Homo sapiens: one gene and its partners. The protein of the gene in region 2 interacts with the protein of the main gene of each other region in a biochemical or structural test. Each region holds a gene or a part of one and is shown on either strand. Other genes may lie near its edges.

Region 1 (7,182 bases), on a different chromosome or scaffold from region 2:
GACTTTCTAGAGCATTTTGCATTTCTAAAAGTGTGTCCAAAGTTTCCTGAATTTTTGTTTTTTCATTAAGCTATCTATTTTCTTGAGTGTTTCTCCCTTCACTTCTTGTATCATTTTTGGATTTCCTTGCCTTGGGCTTTGCCTTTCTCTGGTCCCTCCCTGATTAGCTTAATAACTAACCTCCTGAATTCTTTTTCAGGTAAATCAGGGAATCTTCTTGGTTTGGATCCATTGCTGGTGAATTAGTATGATTTTTTGGGGGTGTTGAAGAGCCTTGTTTTATCATGTTACCAGGGTTGGTTTTCTGGTTCCTTCTCATTGGGGTAGGCTCTGTCAGAGGGAAGGTCTAGGGATGAAGGCTATCGTTCAGATTCTTTTGTTCCACGAAGTGTTCCCTTGATGTAGTATTCTCTCTCTTTTCCTATGGATGTGGCTTCCTGTGAACCAAATTGCAGTGATTGCTGTCTCTCTTCTGGGTCTAGCCACCCAGCAAGTCTACTCAGCTCTGGGCTGGTAGTAGGGGATGTCTGCACAGAGTCCTGTGATGTGAACCATCTATGGGTCTCTCAGCTGTGGATACCAGCACCTGTTCTGGTGGAGGGTGCAATGGACTCCGTGAGGATCCTTAGTTTTGGTGGTTTAATACCCTATTTTTGTGTTGGTTGGCCTCCTGCCAGGAGGTGGTGCTTTCCAGAAAACATCAGCTGTAGTAGTGTGGAGAGAGACTGGTGGTAGGTGGGGTCCTAGAACTCCCAAGATTATATGCCCTTTGTCTTCCACTACCAGGGTGGACAGGGAAGGACCATCAGGTGGGGGCAGGATTAGGCATGTCTGAGCTCAGACTCTCCTTGGGCGGGTCTTGTTGCGACTGCTGTTGGGGATGGGGGAAGAGATTCCTAGGTCACTTGAGTTGTGTACCTAGGAAGATTATGACTGCCTCTGCTGAGTCATGCAGGTTGTCAGTAAAGTGGGGGAAAGCCGGCAGTCACAGGCCTCACTCAGCTCCCACACAAACTGAAGGGCTGGTCTCACTCCCATGGTCTCACTCCCACCGTGCCCCTCTCACAACTCTGAGTCTGTTTCCAGGCCACAGGCGGGCAGCAGGCTTGCCCCAGGCTATCCGCCTCCCAGCTGCAAGAGAAAAGGGCTTTAGTTTTCCCCCTGCCGGTGAAGTCTGCATGCAGGATTTGCACCCTACCTTGAGTTCTGGTCAGGAGGCTTCTCACCCTGTTCAAATTGTTACAAAGTTCAGCTAGAGAATTCCTTCTCCCTGGGGAGTTTTATCCCCTGCTCCTCTGGCCACCCTCCCAATGGATCCCTGTGGTGCCAGGCAGGAATGGCCTGCTTGGGGACCCAGCAAACTCCCAGGGCCTTTCTGCTGCTTCCTCTACCCCTGTTATTTCGCTTGCCTCTCTAACTTGACTCAGCTCCAGGTAAAGTTGGAAACTTCTCCTGCAAACAGACCTTCAGCTTCTCCAGTGGGGGTGTGTGTTTGGGAGAGGAGGGTCTCCCTTTCCCATTTCTGCAGTTGGGGCACTCCCAATATTTGGGGTTTCTCCCGGGTGCTGCAGGAGCAGTCCGCTTTCTTCAGAGGGTCTGTGGGTCCTCTTGAGATTGCTGATTTTTTCTTGCAGTCAGTCTGGAGCTAACATTTGCAATCAAGCCTCCGCATGTTGCCCGGTCTGGAGCTTCAGTCTAGTCCTGCCTCCCGTCTGCCATGATCCCTTCTGTGATGCCATCAATTTATTTTTTCCCTTCTGTGATGTCATCAATTTATTTTTAAGTGTGTGTGTTGTTTTCTTTTTCTTTTTTTTTTTGAGAGAGTCTTGCTCTGTCACCCAGACTAGAGTGCAATGGCGCAATCTCATCTCATGGCAACCTTTACCTCCCAGGCTCAAGCGGGCCTCCTGCCTCAGTCTCCTGAGTAGCTGGGACTCACAGGCGTGCACCACTACAACTAGTAAATTTTTGTATTTTTTGTAGAGATGAGGTTTCTCCATGTTGCAGTTGTTTTACTTCTATGGGACTGATCCCTCTGCTTTTTAAGATTTTTCCCCAGCTGCACAATCTATATCTTTAGAACTTGATATGCGGCAGCGTTTCATAGATGTGTTATGGAAACAAAGAGTCACTGTTAATCAACACAGCTTCTTGAGAGCAAGAAGCTATTGAAACATCAGTTACTAGAGATTCCCAATGTGCCCAGTCACTGCGATAGATATTATGGTGAAACACATTTCAACACGTATAGTACAATGTGATGGATATGTACAAACATGTTCAAAATACTTATGGAAGGGCAAAGGAACAAGTAACTAGTAACTAACTCATCTGTATGGTATCATAGAAAGTTGTATGTATTAAGTAACATTTGTGTCTTGAAGAAAATGTAAGTCTTTTTTTTCTTTTTTTTTTTTTTTTGAGAAGGAGTCTCGCTCTTTTGCCTAGGCTGGAGTGCAGTGGCGTGATCTCGGCTCACTGCAAGCTCTGCCTCCCAGGTTCTGGCCATTCTCCTGCCTCAGCCTCCCGAGTAGCTGGGATTACAGGCATGAGCCACTGCACCTGGCCAAAGGAAATGTAAGTCTTAAAGTGGCAGAAGTATCCCAGGGAAAAAAGAACAGCATGCATATATGTAAGGAGAGAGGTATGACTTGGAATGGACATGCAGCATGTCCAAGGAACTGCAGGCAATTTGATGTGTCTGTAGTAGCATGCTTAGGGAGTGGTAGTGTGTCATGGGAGACAGACTAGAAAAATAGGCGGAGACCAGATCATAAAGAATTTGTGTATCATACTAACTTGTTTAGGTTGCCAACTAGTGCCACAGATGCAATACTAAAGCATTAAATCAATTTGTTTCCTAATTAACATCTCAAATAAAACTATATGAATAGTAGAGAGAAAATTACAGATTGACCTTACTCACCTTTCAACACTATTGAGATAAGAGGATCCATCATGGCCTCCTACTGCATATAACAGATCATCAAGAACACTGACCCCAACTCCGCATCTCCTTTTGCTCATTGAAGCCACCATTCTCCATTCATTGGTCTGTGGATCATATCGTTCAACACTGGAAATGGCATCTCCACTGCACCAACCACCAACTGGGGAAGTAACAGAAATGGTCAAGAGAATCCTATCCTGAAGCATAAAATGTAACACTCACTACTAACTTCACTGTGACCTAATGCTTAGACTCACCAAATGTCTCTAGTAGTAGGTCAAAATGCAAGTTATGACTTCAACTCATTCCACTGGGATTGCTATAATCTTTAATCAATTCTGTAAATAAGTTAGTATTACGTCTATTTTACAAAGGAAGGCAATGATACCAATTCACATAGGATTATGAGATAATATGTATATATGGATAGAATGGAGAAATTATAGATGGATATGCATAGAATGGAGAAATAAATTATAATTGTTTAATGTTTTTTCACAATTCCATGTGATTATGGGATGAGCTGCACATTGATATATAAATTAATGCATGTGACTCATTTCAACAAAACATCTACTGCACGACATTTTTATTTTTTATTTTTTGAGACAGGATCTTGTTCTGTTCCCCAGGCTGGAGTACAGTGGTGCAATCACAGCTCACTGCAGCCTTGACCTCCTAGGCTCAAGCCATCCTCCTGTCTCAGCCTCCCAAGTAGCTGGGACTACAGACATGCACTACCACACTCAGCCAATTGTTTTTCTTATTTTTTGTAAAGATGGGGCCTCCCTATATTGCCCAGGCTGGTCTCAAACGCCTGGCCTCCAGAAAGCTGTATAGGCATGAGCCACTGTGACCAGCCAACATTTTTGGATTTATATAAAAATAGATATTAAAGGTGTTGAATGAGAAAAAAGAATAGAGCACTCTTTTGGAGTATATCAGTGTGGAATCATGGGTTATGAGTCAAGCTATATGCTGACTTATTATTTGTGTCTTATGACAGTAAATATCATAATTGTCCAAAGGATTTTTCAAATGACAGTTTCTCACCTGGGAAAATACTCAATTTACTAACAGTATATTAAGATCCAAACCTGCAAAGAGTACTTCCCCACATCGGATAGGTTTCCGTGGTCTCGTCCTTGGTCCTTGCATTAGTGGTCGTTCTTGCGGCAATAGGAGGTAGTTTTTAGCCTCATCTACCAAGTCTCTGTAGAAAAAATTCTGCCTTTATTCCAAATATCTAAATTACATTGTTAGTTAAGTCCCAATGTAGTTTAGGAATATATAGGTTGGCAAAGGGAAGCAAGCATAAATCAAACCAAATCATGAATGCCAGCCAATATTAAAATTGGCACAAACATGAAACCAATAATGCCAGTCAAACTGAGTTGTGAATTGATTGGTATTTCCATCATGACTCATGTCTCACTGCAAATTTAGCCTAAAGCTCAACATGCTTACAGCCAACAATAACTTATAGAAAAGTAAAAATTACAATTTGATTACCACACTGCAGAGTTACTACTTTTTAATAAATTTTATTAGATTCTGCAAGATATTAGCAAGGTAGCACATCAGCCAGGGCAATAGTTATTTGCTAGATTAAAGTAATAAAACTGGGTCAAAAATCGGATTGCTGAAAAGAAACACTGTACTGCCACAAATTTGCTATCTGGTAACATATGAATGGTTTACTCTCAACAAGTCTACCGAGACATATTTCCTGTCTTGTTAAGACACTTTAAGAGAAGAGTCTAGTAATTACACATGTAATGACTTTGCAGTGGCTCACGCCTGTAATCCCAGCACTTTGGGAGGCTGAGGGGCGGTGGATCATGAGGTCAAGAGATTGAGACCATCCTGGCCAATATGGTGAAACCCCGTCTCTACTAAAAATACAAAAAGTAGCTGGGTGTGGTGGTACGCGCCTGTAGTCCCAGCTACTCAGGAGGCTGAAGCAGGAGAATCGGTTGAACTTGGGAGGCAGAGGTTGCAGTGAGTCGAGATTGCACCACTGCACTCCAGCCTGGCAACAGAGCGAGACTCCGTCTCAAAAAAAAAAAAAAAAAAGACAAAGACTTTGATCTCCTAATAGCTTGTTAGGTCATTTGAGGGTTCCTACAAATAATACTATAGAGCTATAATATTGAGCAAACCAACACAAAATTAATGGTAGTAACAACACTTACAGCTATGTGCTAGTCCTGGTTTTAAGTGCTTAATAGATATAAACTCATTTAATCTTCACAACAGCCTTATGGAATAGGCACTATTATCATCCTCACTTTATAGAGGAAGAAACTGCAGCAAAAAGAAGTTAGGATATCAGGAAGGGTCTTCTTTTAAATATGACTTCATAAGTACTTTTACTTTCTGCATCAGAATCAGTACAATACAATCTGATTTACTTTTAATGGAGGAGGGCATCTATGTATTATTTCTTCAGATTTCAGCATGTATAATGTACATGGTTTTCCTTTTTGCTACTGCAAATATTTAGGAGAATTAATTGCCATTTGTCTGTGTGTTTTTTTTTTTTTTTTTTGAGACTGAGTTTCACTTTTGTTGCCCAGGCTGGAGAGCAATGGTGTGATCTTGGCTCACCGCAACCTCCACCTCCCAGGTTCAAGCAATTCTCCTGCCTCAGCCTCCTGAATAGCTGGGATTACAGGCATGCACCACCATGTCCAGCTAATTTTTGTATTTTTAGTACAGATGCAGTTTCTCCATGTTGAGGCTGGTCTCGAACTCCTGACCTCAGGTGATACACCCACCTCGGCCTCCCAAAGTGCTGGGATTACAGGCGTGAGCCACTGCGCCCGGCCTGTCTGTGTTTTAAATATAGAATACAAAAATCTAGTTTAACTCTAGTCTATGGTAAACTGAAAAATGAAGAATGATTAATATAAAAAAGATACAATAAAATAAAATAGAAACATCTAAAATCCCCTCCAGCCTCTCCTGTTAAAAGAACAGGCTTTAGTTTATAGAAGAAATGCAAGTGAATCTACATGTCCTACCACCATTCTAGAATCAGGGATCATTCTAAATGTCTTTAATCACCAAGGGAGGTTCAAAGGTCAGTGTAGTTTACAAAGTTCTGAGTATGGATTTTCTCTTTCACTTTTATATTTGGGACATGCTGGGGAAAAATGGTTAACAATCCCAGATGATTTCAGATTTGAACCTAAATCTTACAATCTGTCAAATTGGGAATGTAATTTATTACATTTTGTATATACTTTAAAGACAGCCTAGTAAAATAGGTTGCTTTTTTCCCCCCCTTTGAAAAAGTAGTTAAGAGTTTCTTTCGTCAAAAAACCTCTGGAAACTGCTTCACCTAGTTTTAGTGAAAATCTTTCTACAGCTGTTTTAGAAAGTGGCAGATCTTCAACTCTGTCCACAATTTAGAAAGCAAGGCTGATTCTATTCCCCAACCAGACATATGTGATGGAAGGAAAAAATGTTCATTGACAGAGTCAACAGCATTATTTAATTATCTCAAGGAAAAAAAAAATATTAGCAGAGAATTGACTCTTTAAATTCAAGCCTGCATTAAAATCTTGGAAATCTACCTTTTTATTGCCACTTCTACACCAGTAAGCACCACACATAAAAACCTAATGGAATGAAACACTGGAAGTTCAGTTCTCTCTTCTTCTTTTCCTCCTCTTGACTCTAGCCCAGAAGAAAACCTTGTTAAATTAAAGCCCTGGTTTCAGCTCTGCAAAATACAATATTTAGGAAGCAATACAAATAAGGAAATTAGGAAAAAATAGGAATGCTTAGTTGTTGATTTTTCCCATCCAGGGTCACTCATACCTGCATTCTTCATCACTTTTGATGAGGGGATCAGAGCCTACTGTGCCGACCAGGAACTTGGGACTAAGCAAAGGCAAACGAACATGCTGCAGCACCTATGAGAAAATAAACACCATTATTTTAATTAATTAATTTTGAGATAGGTCTTACTCTGTTGCCTAGGCTGGAGTACAGTGGCATGATCGTAGGTCACTGCAGCCTCAATCTCCTGGGCTCAAGTGATGTGCCTACCTCAGCCTCCAGAGTAGCTGCAACTACAAGTGCATGCCACCATGCCCAACAAATTTTTGTATTTTTTTTTTTGTAGAAACGGGGAATCACCACGCTGCCCAGGCTGGTCTCAAACACCTGAGCTCAAGTGATCTGCCTGCCTTATCCTCCCAAGTGCTGGGATTATGGGCTTG
Region 2 (8,051 bases):
TTTCATTTTTAAAAACTTCAGACTTCCAGTTTTTCAGAGCATTTCTTTAAAATTCCTAGGTCACACAAATTATTTAATAAACAATTTGTCAATTTGCCTTGCACAGTGGGGAGAACGTTATACACAAAAATGTACACTGAGCAAATCAAAGTGCTAGTGACAAATAAGTAAGCCACCTCCCTCCCCTCATCATCACGCCCACGAAATAAAGATCAAAAACTCCCTTCGCCAACCACAGGGAGGCCTCTTTTTCTATTTCTTTCTCATAACACATAATGGTACCAAAAAATCATAATGAAAATAAGGTCAATATACTTAATCCATAATATAATAATCTCAACTAATTTTAGTCATCTCTCTTTCTAACAACACTTAAACGATCAGGCCACACTATGCAAATCAAATTAAAATTTATTTTTTTGCTTTTTTCTTCCAGTCCCAAAGGAAAACTCCAAATACCACTCATCTTGCTGAAAACCACAGTAAAGTTATTTAATTCCAGTTAAACCAAATATTTCACCCACACACTCTTAAACTTTAATCTTAAACATATCCATGAAATGTGATGTTTGAAGAGCTTTCCTTATTTACTCACCAGATCATCAATATACAGAGAGCTCTTCCTAAGCACAGGCCCCCATCTATGTTTTCAGTCGATACTAAATATTTAGAGAAATACTCTGTTACAGTAACTTTTAAAAAAATTCTACACTATCATTTGAATTTTTAAAAAAATTTAGTTAAGCTTAGTTTCCATAATTCTCATTAGGCAATCCAGGATGTGGGTGTTTTTTAATTTCCTTTTCATGGAGAAAAAGGAAGCTTTGTATCAGGACATCAGATGTATATGGGAAAATACATATTTCAATGCACATATAAGTAAATACATATTTTGTTTGTTTAAAGATCCTTTTGCCTACTCCACTCACAATGTAAATACACCACAGTCAAATTCCATAAATTCAGTTTTAAATGTATGTATGAAAACTAGGTTTTCTACTAAAGTTGACCAGAGCCCAAAACACTCTGTCTAATACACAGTCAAAGGAAACAGCAATCAGCCCTTAGATGCCCCGAAAGAAACTATTCTTTGTTTACCTAGAAACTGAAAGATTTTACACTGAGAATCACAGCTGCTACAGCAATGGAGGTATGCTCTGAATCCAGATAGCCATATTAGACTCTCATTGATTTGTTAAAAATTTAACATTGTAAATGAAACCAAAGCAACCACCAACACCAACCAGGTAATTAAATTCCTGGTTGGAAGAAGTTTCAAAATCCAAGCCCAATGTCAACATCTGGCAAGTCTCCATTTACCACCTACCAATACTTGCTCAAATTACACTGAAAATTTAGATAGAGGGTAAAGTACTAAGATTTTTAAAACCTATTAATTAGTTTGTACCCTCCGTTTAAATCACACATAAAAGCTAACTCCAATTGCAATTATAATCTTAGTGTTTGTCCTGTTGTCACAGAAGGGCAAGGGCTGACAAGAGTTAGCACGGACAATTAAATCTGATTTTGTCCAGGGGACTGGATCAATATACTGTGCATCATAATCTAGCCCTGAACTGCTGCCTCTCCTCCACCCCCAGGCCCTTGGATCAGGCGGTTTACCGCTGGGTTAGTAACTCTTTTCTCTATGATTTGCGCATCTCCAGAAAGGGCGAGGGAGACGCCTGATTCAAACTGCATTTGTTTACCACCCAATGGCCCCATCGTTATGCATTTCCACAATCCAGGAGGGTACGCTTCTGGTACCCCCTTTACCTGCCAAGTTCCTCGCCGGTGTCGTAGTAATCATCCACGTTTTCCTGCCTGAACACGGTCATGATAAACTGTCACGCCTCACCAAAGCCCAGGGCACTTCAGCTCCGCTTCCCAGACCATCACCACCGCTCCTGCGCCTCCGTAGCCCCCTCATGCATCAGTCTCCAGTCCTTTTGAAGAAAAAAAAAAGGCAATAATAATAGTAAAATGGCAACCCCAAAAGGAAGTAGACCTCCCCGGCGCTAAGACCCCGCTCGCTGAAGACCGGGTCTCCGGAGCTGCCCCTCCTCGCGGGGTGGAGAGGAGCACCCTTTGTTAAAGCTGGGCGGCCAGGGACGCCCCCGACCCCTCAGCCCCGCGCGCGCGTGGGGCCGGGCACCACGGCACCCCGAGGTCGGCGTCCCCAAACGCTGGGCGGTCTGTTGGGATCAGAACCGGCTCCGGAAGTGACTGGCCTCCCCGCCTCCCCTTTCTCTGCACACATGCCCACCCAGCTTTCCCACCTCCAGGGACGCCGCGGAAGAATGAAGCCCTCGCCCAGACGGTACGCGCCTCACTGGGAGCAATCTCTCTCCAGCCTGCGGCAACGGTGGCACCCCCGCGCCACCTCTCGGCTCCCGCGCCTCTCCTAACACCGTGGCCACCCTCTCCCCTTCCCCGAGCGAGGCAGTCCCCAGAGCCACATTCCTGGCGACTCCCTCTCCGTTACCCGGCCGACCCGGCGTGCGGCCGCCCGGGGGAGCAAGGGAGGGAAGGGAGCGGCCCACCGAGGCGCAGCAGTTCGCTCCAGATCCTCGCGCCCCGACACAAAGCGCCTGGTCGGGCCGGCGCCACCTGTTCTCACCCGGCCCGCGGGGCTGGGGAAGCCTCCCGGCTGCGATCGCACTTCTCCCCGAAGCCAAGTTTCCCTCCGCCTTGGCCTTCCCAGTTGCTCGAGGCACTGCCCGGACAAACCCCACCGCGCCCTGGCTGGGAAAGCAAAAGCTGGCGCCGGGGGTCGGGGGGACCGGGGAGCCGCGCCTGGCTACTCACCCGGGCGCCTGGGAGCTCCCCCGGTCCCTCCGGAGCGCTGTCGGAGGCCGACCATAGGCGCCAGCGCCGGAGACTAGCCGGGGCGGCGGCGGGAACACAGCTAGGGAGTGAGTGGGGGGCGCAGATCCCTCCCAGGCGCCGGCCCCAGACCCTGCCGCTGCGAGTTGCCGAGTCCCCTCCGCGGAGGGAACAAAGTCCCCGGCGTTGGCTCGGTCCGGCTGTCCTCCTCACACTCCGAAGCAGCCTCTCGGCTCCTTGCCGCCTTTTGGGCGGAGGGCGGCCGGCAGGCGGCCAATGGGGACCCTGCAAGCGGGCTGGCGGCGCGGCCCACCCACCTCCGAGCTGCCCTGCCAGGCCGGCGCTGCGGGTTCTGCGCGGCGCTCGCTGCTCCTCCCAGCTCCGCGCTCCGGGCTCGCTGGCGCGCTCTACCGCGCACACCCCGCACACACCCACTCGCCCCACACCCACGCCGGCCGGGGAGCCAGTGCGTCCGCCCGGAACGCGGGCGCCCCACCTGTGACACATTGCTAAGCTGCCCTCTGACTGGGTTCTAGGGAAACACGGTTCTTCCGTCCCGAGATGTGTACTGGGATCCCAGCTTGTGCCGGGCACGGTGCTTGGTATGGGAAAATCACATAGAACAAAACAGATTTTTTTAAATCCCTGCCTTCCGGAAACCTGCATTCTGGTGGGACAGATAGATAATAAATATGTAAGCTAATTAATAAGGTAATTTTGGAGGATCAGTCCTACGTTTACCACGAAACAGGTTAATGGAATAGAGAATGGCAGGAAGGGAGCGTACCTCATTAGACTGGGTTCCTCTGCCGGACTGGTGTTGGAGCCGAGGCTTGAAGGCAAGAAGGTTTGCAATCTGAAGAAAGGGTTGAGGTCTCCGAGACCCAAAGAAGCAACAGAGACGCAGAGTTTATTTGCGCTATCCCATATGCTATTGGCTATTGTTGAGCTGAAATGTAGCTAGTCCCAAATTAATTGTGCTGTAAGTGTAAAATACACATTAGAGTCCAAGACAGTATGGATATGAGAATGAAAAATATCTCATGAATATTTTTATATTCATTACACTTTCAAATGATAGTATTTTGGATACGTTGGGTTAAACAAAATATATTATTAAAATTAATTTCACCTGTTTACTTTCTTTTTTTTGAGACGGAGTCTCACTCTGTCGCCAGGCTGGAGTGTAGTGGAGCGTGGCAACCTCCACCTCCAGGGTTCAAGTGATTCTCCTGCCTCGGCCTCCCCAGTAGCTAGGACTACAGTCGCGCGTCACCATGCCCAGCTAATTTTTGTATTTTTAGTAGAGACGGGGTTTCACCGTGTCGACCAGGATGGTCTCCATCTCTTGACCTCGTGATCCGCCCGCCTGGGCCTCCCAAAGTGCTGGGATTACAGGCGTGAGCCACCGCGCCCGGCCTCACCTGTTTACTTTTTAAAAGGTGGCCACTAGAAAATATAACAGTACCTATGTTGCTTGCATGAGATTTCTGAGGACTGTGCTGGTCTACACAAAGATCCCATATCCACTGGAGACCTCTATCCACTTTCTCTACTTCCCACCCCTTGCTCCCACCTAATGTTTGGGTGGAGACGAAGAAGGGTTGATTCCCCACATCCCACTGCTGGAGAACCCCAAACGGTGAAAAGCTCCTAAAGGGAAATCTATTTTACTGCCTAGAATGATGAAAACTGACAGATGAAGAGATTTCCGATCCATACCGTTGTTCAAATCCCCAGGCTTTCTAAACTGAGTTGGTTCAAATCTCTGTGGTTCAACAGAAATTTTCAACTGTGAAGATTTTGGCCTCTTGAAAACAAGGCAAAACAAAACAAAAGAATACCCCTCAGGCCTTATGTCAAATCCTAGTCTTTTTTTTTTTTTTGAGACGGGTTTTCGCTCTTGTGGCCCAGACTGGAGTGCAGTTGTGAAATCTTGGCTCACTGCAAACTCCGCCTCCGCCTCCCGGGTTCAAGCGATTCTCCTGCCTCAGGCTACCCAGTAGCTGGGATTACAGGCATGTGACTATGCCCGGCTAATTTTGTATTTTTAGTAGAGACGTGGTTTCACCATGTTGGTCAGGCTGGTCTTGAACTCCTGACCTCAGGTGATCCTCCCGGCTCGGCCTCCCACAGTGCTGGGATTACAGGCGTGAGCCACTGCGCCCAGCCAAATCCTAGTCTTAAATAACATTGCATTAATGACCCACAGGAAGGGCACACAGGAATCAAGGGGAAGTCCCCAAATTGGGAGATGGTATTAGCTTAAGCAGTGGGCTTGATAATACAAAAGGGTCTTGAGAGGTGAGAAATACAGTCAAAAATAACAACAACAACAAAAAAAGAGTGATTCATCTGGGAAAATGCAAATGAATACATCTGTTGGGAGAAAAAATTTAAAACACAGATGTTTGGGATAAACTTGGAAGGTGTTTATGGATGACTGCCATATGGGTAATATTTATTTTCTGCAAAATAAAAAATATATTGTCCGAGGCAATTAAAAGGACTGAATCTATTTGGCAGCTAGAATGTCTTAACTACCCTAATGGACAATGATGTTCACCGGAGATTATCTGGAGTAGTGAAAAAGAGCATGAAATTTGGAGTCACAAAATTAGATCTAGTATTGGTGGAACCATTTAACAGCTTAATAACCTTGGATGAGTCACTAACCCCCGAGCTTTTTGTGTACACCAATTTAGACAAGCATTTTAGAAAGGGGAAATGTGGTCATTTAAAAACATATTCACAAATTCTTTGACACTCCCCCAATCAAGAGGTGGAGTCTAATTCCCCTCTCAATAAATATTCACCAACCCTATCTGCTTGCTTCTAAGAAAAGGTAGTGGCAGTGGCACAGTGTAATTTATTTCCAAGGTTAGGTCATAAGGCATTAGAGCTTCTGCCTGCTTGCTTCTCTTTCTCTCTCTCTCTCTCTCTCTCTCTTTCCCTCCCTCCCTCTCCCCCTCCACCCACTCTAAAGCCTTCAGCTGTCATGATTACCCTAGGGCTGCCATGTAGAGACATGTGACAAAACCACAGAAAGAACGAGAGATGCCCAGAGAAGCCAGCTGTCCAGCCCCACCCTCACTCCCAGTTGTTTATATCTTCCAGTTCAAGTTCTGTGAGCAAAATCAATGACTTTTAATGTTTTAAGTCATTATTTCAGAGTGGTTTGTTATGTAGCAATAGATTATCTTCTTAAAAAGAAAAATTAAGAAAACTTTTCTCTTAACACATACCAGGTTCCAGACAGATGAAATAATTCTCTCAATTAATCTTTAAATAAATTAGCGGGGTTTTTATTTAATAAATAAATAAATAAATAAGTGGTTATTTCCACTTTACATGTAAACGTCTCAGTTTCATCACCTGTGAAATGAAGATGATTATAGACCCTTACATATTCCTTGGGTTTGTTGGGAGAATCTAAAGAGATAATGCATGAAACAGGACTTTGTACATTATAAAATACACCAGAATGTTGGATATTTTATTTTCTATCATGTCCCTAGCAAAAAGGACTCAGAGAGGCATCTCACACATAGAAGGCAACAATATAAGAAGCCACAAATTATGAGATGCCAGTTGAGAAGGACTTCTATAAAAATAATTATGATATGGACTATGGATTATAATAATGATGGCGATAATATTTTAAACAAACCCGACTGTAGATTTTAGAACATTATTTTACAGTCGTATTAGGGTAAAATAACCATTGCTATAAGACCCAACAAATCCCAGAGGTTTAACACATTAAAAATGTGTTACTTGCTCTCAGCACAAAGGTTTGCAGGGCATAAGCAGAGATCAGCTCCACAGTAGTCATTCAGAAACCCAGGTTTCTGCCATCTAATGAATCCATGCTCCTCCAGCGTAAGTTCCTCAGTTTATCCTTTCCATCTTTTGGCTGATGAGAGAAGAGATAATACAGGGAGGATTGCACTGAAGGTTTATGTAGGAGGTCAGATTTGAAGTCTGAGACAATCATTTTCTGGCAAGATGTTCTCAGCTCAAAGTGGACCATATTATCTCATTTCCACCTTTTGGTTGCTTTTTTGTAACATGGCTTTGGTTTTATCAAGGGCTAATATTTTTAAGAATGTTTCCCACTTTGGGAGGCCGAGGCGGGCAGATCACGAGGTCAGGAGATCAAGAGCATCCTAGCTAACACGGTGAAACCCCATTTCTACTAAAAATACAAAAAATTAGCCAGGTGTGGTGGCAGGTGCCTGTAGTCCCAGCTACTTGGGAGGCTGAGGCAGGAGAATGGGGTGAACCCGGGAGGCGGAGCTTGCAGTGAGCCGAGATGGTGCCACTGCACTCCAGCCTGGGTGACAGAGCAAGACTCCGTCTCAAAAAAAAAAAAAAAAAAAAAAAAAAGAATGTTTCTGCATTGTGGTTTCACCATTAAAGATTCTGTCCGTTACGCAGTTGAGAGCCTCTGATAGAGGCAGTCACATGACTGATTCCAGTTCCTCCCAGCACTGAGTGCTAAAAGTATTCATTTCTTCTCACCAAATCATATTTTCTTTTACCAGACAAAAGTACAGAGCTCATTCTGTTTCTCATTTTGCCTTGGATTCGCCAGAAAGCATGCGGCAAGCTCAGAAAGCACAAACCTCCATCTAATGCCCAATTTACCATCTTCTCTGATCCCGTCCATAAGCATTTCTTGAGTATCTAGTGTCCACCAAATGTTAGGGATACAGATATAAGAGAAACATTCTCTGTCCTCAGGTAACTCAGTCTGATGAGGGAGACGGATCAACAAATAGACCTGCGATTGTGCTAAATATAATCCATTTGTCACTCTACATCTAATCTACTCTCTGAGCCGTAAGATTATTTTAATGCATTCCTTGTCCTCTGGTTGCTGGTAGGTTTAGCCAATGGGGCACCTGACATGAGATGAAGGAGAAGGAAGGAGAGTGAAGCCAAGATAGTCATTCCTCTGCTCTCCTCCCTGCAAGATTGCCACAGTCCACAGCCAAACACAGGTTGCTGCTCCTCACCAGGTCCCGTCTTTTACCGGGTTTTCTCTTTCTGGGTTTTGGTAACCACTCTCTCTCCTTTGTCTTTTTGAGCCTAGGGTTGGTGCCAGCTCTGCTATTACTACCTTGGGTTCCTGCTCCATCCCTTATGGTCCCCCTGCACCTCTCCCACACCTCCCTGAATTGTCCTAATTTGAGCATTCCATCTCTGCCCTCTGGACCCCT
Region 3 (7,802 bases), on a different chromosome or scaffold from region 2:
TATATATTGCTTTGGATAAATCTATATATTGCTTTGGATGAACATTTTAACAATATTAATTTCCTTGCTGGAATAGCAGTTAGGATTTGGTGCTCTCTCCTGCAGCTTCTTGAAGTGTGACTTTGCTAAGCCTTAAGCAATTAAACACATTATATCTCTGGAAACATATATAAGAAACTGATAGCAGTGGTTGTCCCCAAAGCGGGGAACCAGATGTTGGGAAGCAGGGGTGGGAGTGAGACGTTTCCTGTTGCCCTTTTACTCCTTCTGAATTTTAAATAATGAGAATGTATTTAAATAAATAGAAATGAGGCACTAAAAATTAGTGTATTTTTATAAGTCAGATACTATCTTGATTTAGATTCTAGTAAAGTGGTAGTAAGATGCAAACATTTTTAAAAGATATGAGATATTTTTTATTTTTATTTTTTGAGATAAAGTGTCACTCTTTCTCCCAGGCTAGAGTGCAGTGGCACCATCAGTGCTCACTGCAGCCTCGACTTCCTGGCATCAGGTGATTCTCCCACCTGAGCCTCCTGAGTCACTGGGACTACAAGTGCACACCCCCACCGCCACCTAATTTTCTGTATTTTTAGTAGAGATGGGGTTTTGCCACATTGCCCAGGCTGGTCTTGAATTCCTGGGCTCAAGTGATCCTCCGGCCTTGGCCTCCCAAAGTGCTGGGATTACAGGCATGAGCCACTGTGCCTGATCATGAGAGAAGTTTTGTGTAAATTTGGAAAATACTACCACTCTTTGATTCTGTAGATCCGGCACCTTGGTCTGGTGTTCTATTGGAGCAGTTTGGGAATCATGACTCTTAAGGAAAGAGAATGTTGACAGTCAAAACTTTGCTTGGATATGCTTTAGAGAATTTCACAGTGATTTGAAAAGAACACTCTCTGTGATGTGCTCTTTAAAACCATTACACAACCATTATTTTGATGTTGTGGATATTACTTTTTCTCGCATCATTTTTCTCAACAAAAGGATAAGGTCAGTAAGTGTATATACGTTTATAAACTAAGGAAGTTAAGTAATGTAAGCACAAACCATCCAAGGAATTTGTTAGTGATGCAATCCTGGCCTCTAAATTGCTCTTGACCAAGGAGCTTCACATATGGGAAGGATCAGAAATTCTATGGCATGGAATCAAAGACACTCTTCCTGCTTCAGGGGCACATATAGATTAGTACTGTCATTGCAGTTTCCTATTAGATGATTCTTAGTGACCAAATCTCTGTCTAGGACCCAGATACCTTATTTACTCAAAATAGTGGACGGAAAATAAACGTTTGATATACATGTATGCATAATATTTTCATCTACATAATTTTTATTTCCCTGAGTGTTTTTTCTTGGGTCATATTTAAAACTCATGCCAGCCCTGTGAAGAAGGTTGTCATTTTTTTTTTCTGATGTACACATGTGGAAAAAGTGACTGGACAGAATCATTCTATTGATAAGTAGCACAGAGTCAGGCATTTTGATTCTTGGGCTTTTGTTCTTCCCCCTGGAAAATGCTTAGTGACTTGATCTGGAATGCCATCCTCTCTTTTCAGGTTTTGACTTGATCTTTAAAATTATGCTCAAAATTCTTCCCCAAGAGGCTGTTTCACCAAAGCCCAGATGGTTTTTGCTGGTTCCAAGACTCCCAAAAACTTGTTTCCAGTATTTTCTATTATATCCAGTATCTATTATTTATCACATTCCAGTATGAACATGGAATATGATTTATTGTATTGACTTACAGAATTTGCTTTATTGTATTTATTTTTTTCTTTTCTTTTTTTTTTTTTCTTTTTTGAAACGGAGTCTCACTCTGTCACCCAGGCTGGAGTGCAGTGGCGCAATCTTGGCTCACTGCAACCTCCGCCTCCCGGGTTCAAGCGATTCTTCTGCCTCAGCCTCCTGAGTAGCTGGGACTACAGGCTCGTACCACCACACCTGGCTAATTTTTTATTTTTAGTAGAGACAGGGTTTCACCATGTTGGCCAGGCTGGTCTCAAACTCCTGACCTCGTGATCACCCACCTCGGCCTCCCAAAGTGCTGGGATTACAGACGTGAGCCACTGCGCCCGGCCTGTACTGATTTTCTTTCTGCTATTTGTCTCCCTTTCTTATTTTATGTAAATTATTATAAATAGTACTACTCCTGACTTACAGACATTTACATTCTGTTTTTAATAACTTCTAGATGACTAGAGAATAGTAGTTCCAAACTTTTGTGTACATAAGAATAACCTAGGGAAGTTATTAAAAATAGACTTCTCAGTGCTCTTCCCATAGGTTCTAGTTCTGTTGGGGGGAGGCGGGGGAGGTCCAGGAATCTGCATTTTCAATAAGCACCCCAGAGGATGCTGATGCAGGTGATCCAGTAACCACGCTTTCAGAAATTCTGCTGTTGAGAACTAAAAATGTGATTGTTATCCTCTGCTCAGTAGGGGAAACAGAGGTGTAAAATAAAATAACTGAGTTCTTGCTCTCTTGGTGTTGACAAACTTTCAGCTGTGAGTGGTGTGGACACTAAATGCAATAGGAATACAAAGAAGGGAGGCATCACTTCTGGCTGGATTGTCAAGCTTCATAAAAGATAGGGGGTTTGAAGAAAAGAAATTTCAAAAAGATGAAAAAAAAATGGGCCGGGCGCGGTGGCTCACGCCTGTAATCCCAGCGCTTTGGGAGGCGGAGGTGGCCGAATCACGAGGTCAGGAGTTCGAGACAAGCCTGGGCAACATGGTGAAACCCCGTCGCTACTAAAAATACAAAAAATTAGCCGGGCGTGGTGGCAGGTGCCTGTAATCCCAGCTACTCGGGAGGCTGAGGCAGGAGAATCGCTTGAACCCGGGAGGCGGAGCATGCAGTGAGCCGAGATTGTGCCACCATTGCACTCCAGCCTGGGTGACAGAGCAAGACTCCGTCTCAAAAAAGAAAAAAAAAAGTGGATTATTTCAAGATGTTGGAACAGCAAAGACTAAGTGTTGAGGATGCATAACTTCTTTTAGGGGATCAGTATGTGGAATGATGTGCCTGAACTAAAAAGAGTTTTTGTGGGCACATGTAGGAATTTACACTTGGAAAGACAGGAGTCAGATCGCAGAGAGTCTTGAATTTGGACTCTATTCTGCAGGTATTGGGTGGTTCCTCAAACACGCAGGTAAGATAAAAGTGATCTTAAAAGATTGATGTGGCAGTGAGTTTGAAAGCCGTGAACTACGTTTGGCGGTCTTTGTACACATTGGGAGAAACGCCAATTGTGAAAGTAGATTTAACATGATCTGGAGCTTGACTATGTGAGAAAGCGAAAAGTGTCAGAAACGCTGCTGAGGTTTGAACCTCCTTGACTGGGAGGATTATGTACAATTTCACCGCCCAGCAAATCTGAAGGAGGAAATGTTTTGAGGATAGTATGTTTGGTTCTAGGTCTAGAATTCAACTTCCTGCCAAATTTGGAATCTTCTGTACATATGCATCAGGTGGCTTCGTTTAAATATACGACAATTACTTTTATTATGTTGAAAGGAAAAGGTCTGGAGCTCGAGGGAGGGGATTACAGATTTGGGTCCATTGGCGCAAAGGGAGGCTGACTGTTCAGATTAATAATTATTAACGGCCACCGTATGGAAAGCACTGCACGAAAAACTAAGATGACCAGTCCTCGTCCTTAAGAAATTCAAAATCTAGACGGAATCTCCAAGAAAGAGATTCCGGTAAGAGTACATGGCAAGCCTCCATATCCACACACCACTGACCAATGAATTTGTACTCTTCTCGTTGGAGTAGTTGAGGGCCTTTGGCTCAAGGAGGGGTGAAAATTAGCAGGATACTAAATTGGGAATGAGAAATCTCTTTTTAGAGGGCGTGGACTTGCAGAACTCTTTGAAGCAGCAGATGCTAGACTGCCCAAACCCCACGCGAGAGTAGCTCTCTGGAGTTGCGGAGTCCGAACCTCCCAAGAGCTACAAATTTATTCCGCAACTACCAATTTTGCGGTTTGGGGCCAGTAAGGCGCCAAGACCCGCCCAGGTGTCCAGACCTCGCAACGATTGGACGAGCTCACCTTCTCGCCTTCCCCGGGCCCCTCGCCCGTCAATCACACTGCTTGCTCGCCACCTGACCTCTGCTGCGCCCCCTTTCAGTGGTGTAACACCTGGCGCTCTTTCGCGCCCCAGCCCTCCGGCGCCCCACCAATCGCTTCAGTTCTTCATTGGCCAGCAGAGAGGTGAGGGAAGGGAAGGGGCGCTCTATTTTGCTCTCTGAACGCACCCTCTCAAGTTTCCCAGTCTTCTCGTAGACGGTCAGGAGAGCAATGACAGCCTGGAGCAGTCGCGCGTGAGCGCAAAAATGCCCGCTGGTGGAGGAGCGCTTCCCCTCCCTCCCAAGCGATTTGCCGCATTTGTTCTGACGCAGGGGCACCCCGCTCGCCGTCTTCACTTACGATTGGCTGTGGCCGAAGCCCGTCACACAGCCCGCCCCACTCCTCTGCCTCAAGAGGCCGCACCTCACGCCGTCGCTGCCGCTTAGCCGTGTGATTGGCTAAGAGGGCTGGCATGCTTTCCCGCCCCCTCCCCCGCCGCCGCACCAAGAGGCGGGCGGGACCCCGCGGAAGTTGTCAGTCAAACTCCTCCTTCCCACCCCTTGCGAGGCCCCTCCCCGGGCCGCGCGCCCTGGCGCGCGCACACGCGCACACACTCCCCAGTCGCCTGTACCAACCACCTTCTCAAGTTGTAGCGGTCGCTCGCCTGGGGTTCTCCGTGGGCGGCCGACGGGCGCGTGGGGGAGGGGGTTCGGGCCGCCCAGCGCGGCAAGGAGCGAGTGTGTGCACGCAGAGGGCCGGGGCTACGGGGCAGCGCCCCGGGCGATGAGGGGCCGGCGTTGACCGGGAAGAGCGGGCACCGCGGCAGTGGCTCCGAGGGGACCCGCGATGGCAGCGCCCTGAGAGGAGGCTCCAGGCAGGGCGGGCTGCGCTGGCAGCGGCCGCTGAGGTGCTGGCCGGCCGGCTGGCTGGCGACGGGGGCAGAAGCGACGAGAGGCGCGCTCGGCACCCGCACCCCCGTGCCCCCGCCTCAGTTGTCTAAACTTCGGGCTCTCTTCCACCCGCTCTGCGCGCCCAGAGTCAACAACTTCTTCACCCCCCTCCGCCCCCGCCCTTCCCTCCGTCAGCCCCGGGAGCTCGCCGCGCGCCGGGGACCAGGAACCTCCAGCGCTGAGATGTGGCCGTGAGGCGTTGGCGGGCGGCGAGGAGAAGCTCGGCGGCGTCCCGGGGCCGGAGGGCCGTGGGGCCGGGGCGCAGGGGCGCGAGCACCCCGCGCCTCTCCCCCGCCTCCTCCTGCCGTCTCCGCCGCTGCCCGTGCCTTGCAAGCAGCAGCCGGAGCTGCCAAGCGTCAGGGCCGCGGAGATGTCGTCGTCGTCGCCGCCGGCGGGGGCTGCCAGCGCCGCCATCTCGGCCTCGGAGAAAGTGGACGGCTTCACCCGGAAATCGGTCCGCAAGGCGCAGAGGCAGAAGCGCTCCCAGGGCTCGTCGCAGTTTCGCAGCCAGGGCAGCCAGGCAGAGCTGCACCCGCTGCCCCAGCTCAAAGGTAACCTCCGAGGGCGCAGCCCCAGCAGCGAGCGCAGGGGCTGGCAACGCTTGCCTCTGCGCCAGCAGAGCCATTTCCTGCTGGGTTTCTCCTGCTCAGTTGGGACTGGTAGTGTGTGAGCCGAGTTCCCCACAATGCCTTGGCGTCACCTCACGCCCTCCTCCTTATTCAAACAGGTTTTCTGTGAAGTCTTGGCTGTTTCCTTCTAATTCCCACCTGAACTCTTTCCATCCTAGGGGAGGCCAACACCCTTCCCCACCTGCGCGCTTGCTTAACCTGCACTTCCTATCTTGCGTCCCGTGAAGTAGAGTCCTTCACTCCTCTTCCAGGTTTGCCCTTTCCCGGTCTTGCTTTAACAACCGCACGAACCTTCCCCGACCTTCACTTTCCCGAGTGTCAGCTCCTCTGTTCGGCCACTTTTAGCTAGTCCTTTACTTTTACAGTTATAAAGCCGTCTGCACCCACCTTCTTCTCAACTTCACTTCCCATTGATTGCCCCTAAGAGTCATCAGACCAGGAATCCGAATGCAAACAACGGTTAAGAGTTAGCTGGCCTTTGGATGTATTTATAAAGAAAAAGCCTAAAATTTGACCAGTGTAGTATCTTATTCACAGGATCGTTAGCTTTAAATGGTATCCTTTAGCTCAAGGAATAGATTTAAAATATTCTGTTGTCTGAGCCGATACACATGGTCTATTTGGAAATACGAAGGAGTAGGTAGTGTTGCTTTGCAGTCGAATGGGAACTTAGTTTGCCAGGCAGTGATTCCAGGGACTTTGTAGGTTTGTACAGGAATTCAAATTGGTATCCGTGCCTAATGCCTTGCAGGAGAACTTGGCACTCTTTTTGGCTCACTTTTCCCACTAGGTTTAGAGGATTTTCGATGTTATTTCCTGGTGTTCTAGTTTATTCTTTGTGTATTACTCATGCTTAATTTTATAATTTTAATGTCCTTGCTTTTTATGAGATAGAAATGTTGGAACAAGATGATAATGCTCCTACATATTTAGATAAAATTTGCAACCTGACGGAAATCCCTATCATCTGATGTTCAGATTTTTCAATTCATTTGAAAAAGCTGCAGCATCCCCTTCAAGGCCAGTCTGGTTCTCATTTGTCTTTGGGCCTGTGAATCCAGCCTTAGTTTGGCAAGGAGTCTAAAGAAAACCCCAGATCAAATCACAGTTGACCTACAACAGCTCCAGAACCCTATTGAGACCCTACCTTGCCCTGACTCTTGGAGTGCTTCTAAATCATGACATCTCACAGTTAGAATCAAACTGGCTTTTGAACAGAGATTTTGAGATATTAGTCTGTGCTATCGAATTTATCATTTGATTGCTCTTTAGCATATAAAAATTGTTAAAATTTACATAGCAAAATGGTAGACTATAATGATAGGCATTGCCAAGACTTTAATTCTTGAATGATGTCATAGCTATAAAAGAATATCGTCTTTGCTATTCATAGATTTTAAAATTTACACTTATTTAAAATATCATAGTTTTTTTATACTACTGATTTTTTTTCTCCCATTAAATTGTCAAACTGTAGTTTGAAGGTTTGGTGCTAGGGTTATTTCATAGTTATTTAATTTGCTTTTTAGTAAGATATTCTAGTTTCTTAGTATTGTACTTCTTAATAGTATACTTTAATAAAAGTAATTGAATATTAAACATTTGGTTGGTTTCAAGCCAGGAGATGCAGCTTTGATAGGTTTTGCTTTTATTTTATTTATTTTATTTTATTTTTTCACTTTCGTTGCTCAGGCTGGAGTGCAATGGCGCGATCTCAGCTCACTGCAACCTCCGCCTCCCGGGTTCAAACAATTCTTCTGCCTCAGCCTCCCAACTAGCTGGGATTACAGGCATGTGTCACCATGGCCGGCTAATTTCGTATTCTTAGTAGAGATGGGGTTTCACCATGTTGGTGAGGCTGGTCTCCAACTCCTGACCTCAGGTGATCAGGCCACCTCAGCCTCCCAAAGTGGTGGGATTACAGGCGTGAGCCACCGCACCTGGCCACATTTTGCTTTTAAAAGCTTGGAAAAATATGCATAGAGTCAGTAATCATCTAAGTTATATGATGTAGGGTTCAACAAGTTGAAGGTGCCATATAGTATTTGGTCACTAGTAAAGAAGAAAGTAAATTGGAACTTTACATTAATTGTAGATATTTGCATGAAAATACAGTATTCATCATAAGGAAAATTATGTATTCAG

Evidence for each region. Proteins that work in one complex are often made in the same cells at the same time.
Region 1: the proteins of DAPK1 (region 2) and KLHL20 are reported together in a solved structure, tested with the Homo sapiens proteins (2 studies listed by BioGRID and IntAct, with this or other methods).
Region 3: of the proteins of DAPK1 (region 2) and PPP2R5A, one has a biochemical effect on the other in vitro, tested with the Homo sapiens proteins (one study listed by BioGRID).

Annotation. Positions count from the first base shown.
Region 1 is NC_000001.11:173,752,904-173,760,085, reverse strand, and holds part of KLHL20 (kelch-like protein 20), read right to left. Parts: intron 6,874-7,182; coding exon 6,779-6,873; intron 4,164-6,778; coding exon 4,048-4,163; intron 3,111-4,047; coding exon 2,927-3,110; intron 1-2,926. UniProt on the Homo sapiens protein: Substrate-specific adapter of a BCR (BTB-CUL3-RBX1) E3 ubiquitin-protein ligase complex involved in interferon response and anterograde Golgi to endosome transport.
Region 2 is NC_000009.12:87,492,865-87,500,915, reverse strand, and holds the start of DAPK1 (death-associated protein kinase 1), read right to left. Parts: upstream 3,050-8,051; 5' UTR 2,809-3,049; exon of another isoform or gene 2,544-2,808; intron 2,335-2,543; exon of another isoform or gene 2,280-2,334; intron 1,947-2,279; 5' UTR 1,839-1,946; coding exon 1,777-1,838; intron 1-1,776. UniProt on the Homo sapiens protein: Calcium/calmodulin-dependent serine/threonine kinase involved in multiple cellular signaling pathways that trigger cell survival, apoptosis, and autophagy.
Region 3 is NC_000001.11:212,280,713-212,288,514, forward strand, and holds the start of PPP2R5A (serine/threonine-protein phosphatase 2A 56 kDa regulatory subunit alpha isoform), read left to right. Parts: upstream 1-4,697; 5' UTR 4,698-5,398; coding exon 5,399-5,579; intron 5,580-7,802. UniProt on the Homo sapiens protein: The B regulatory subunit might modulate substrate selectivity and catalytic activity, and might also direct the localization of the catalytic enzyme to a particular subcellular compartment.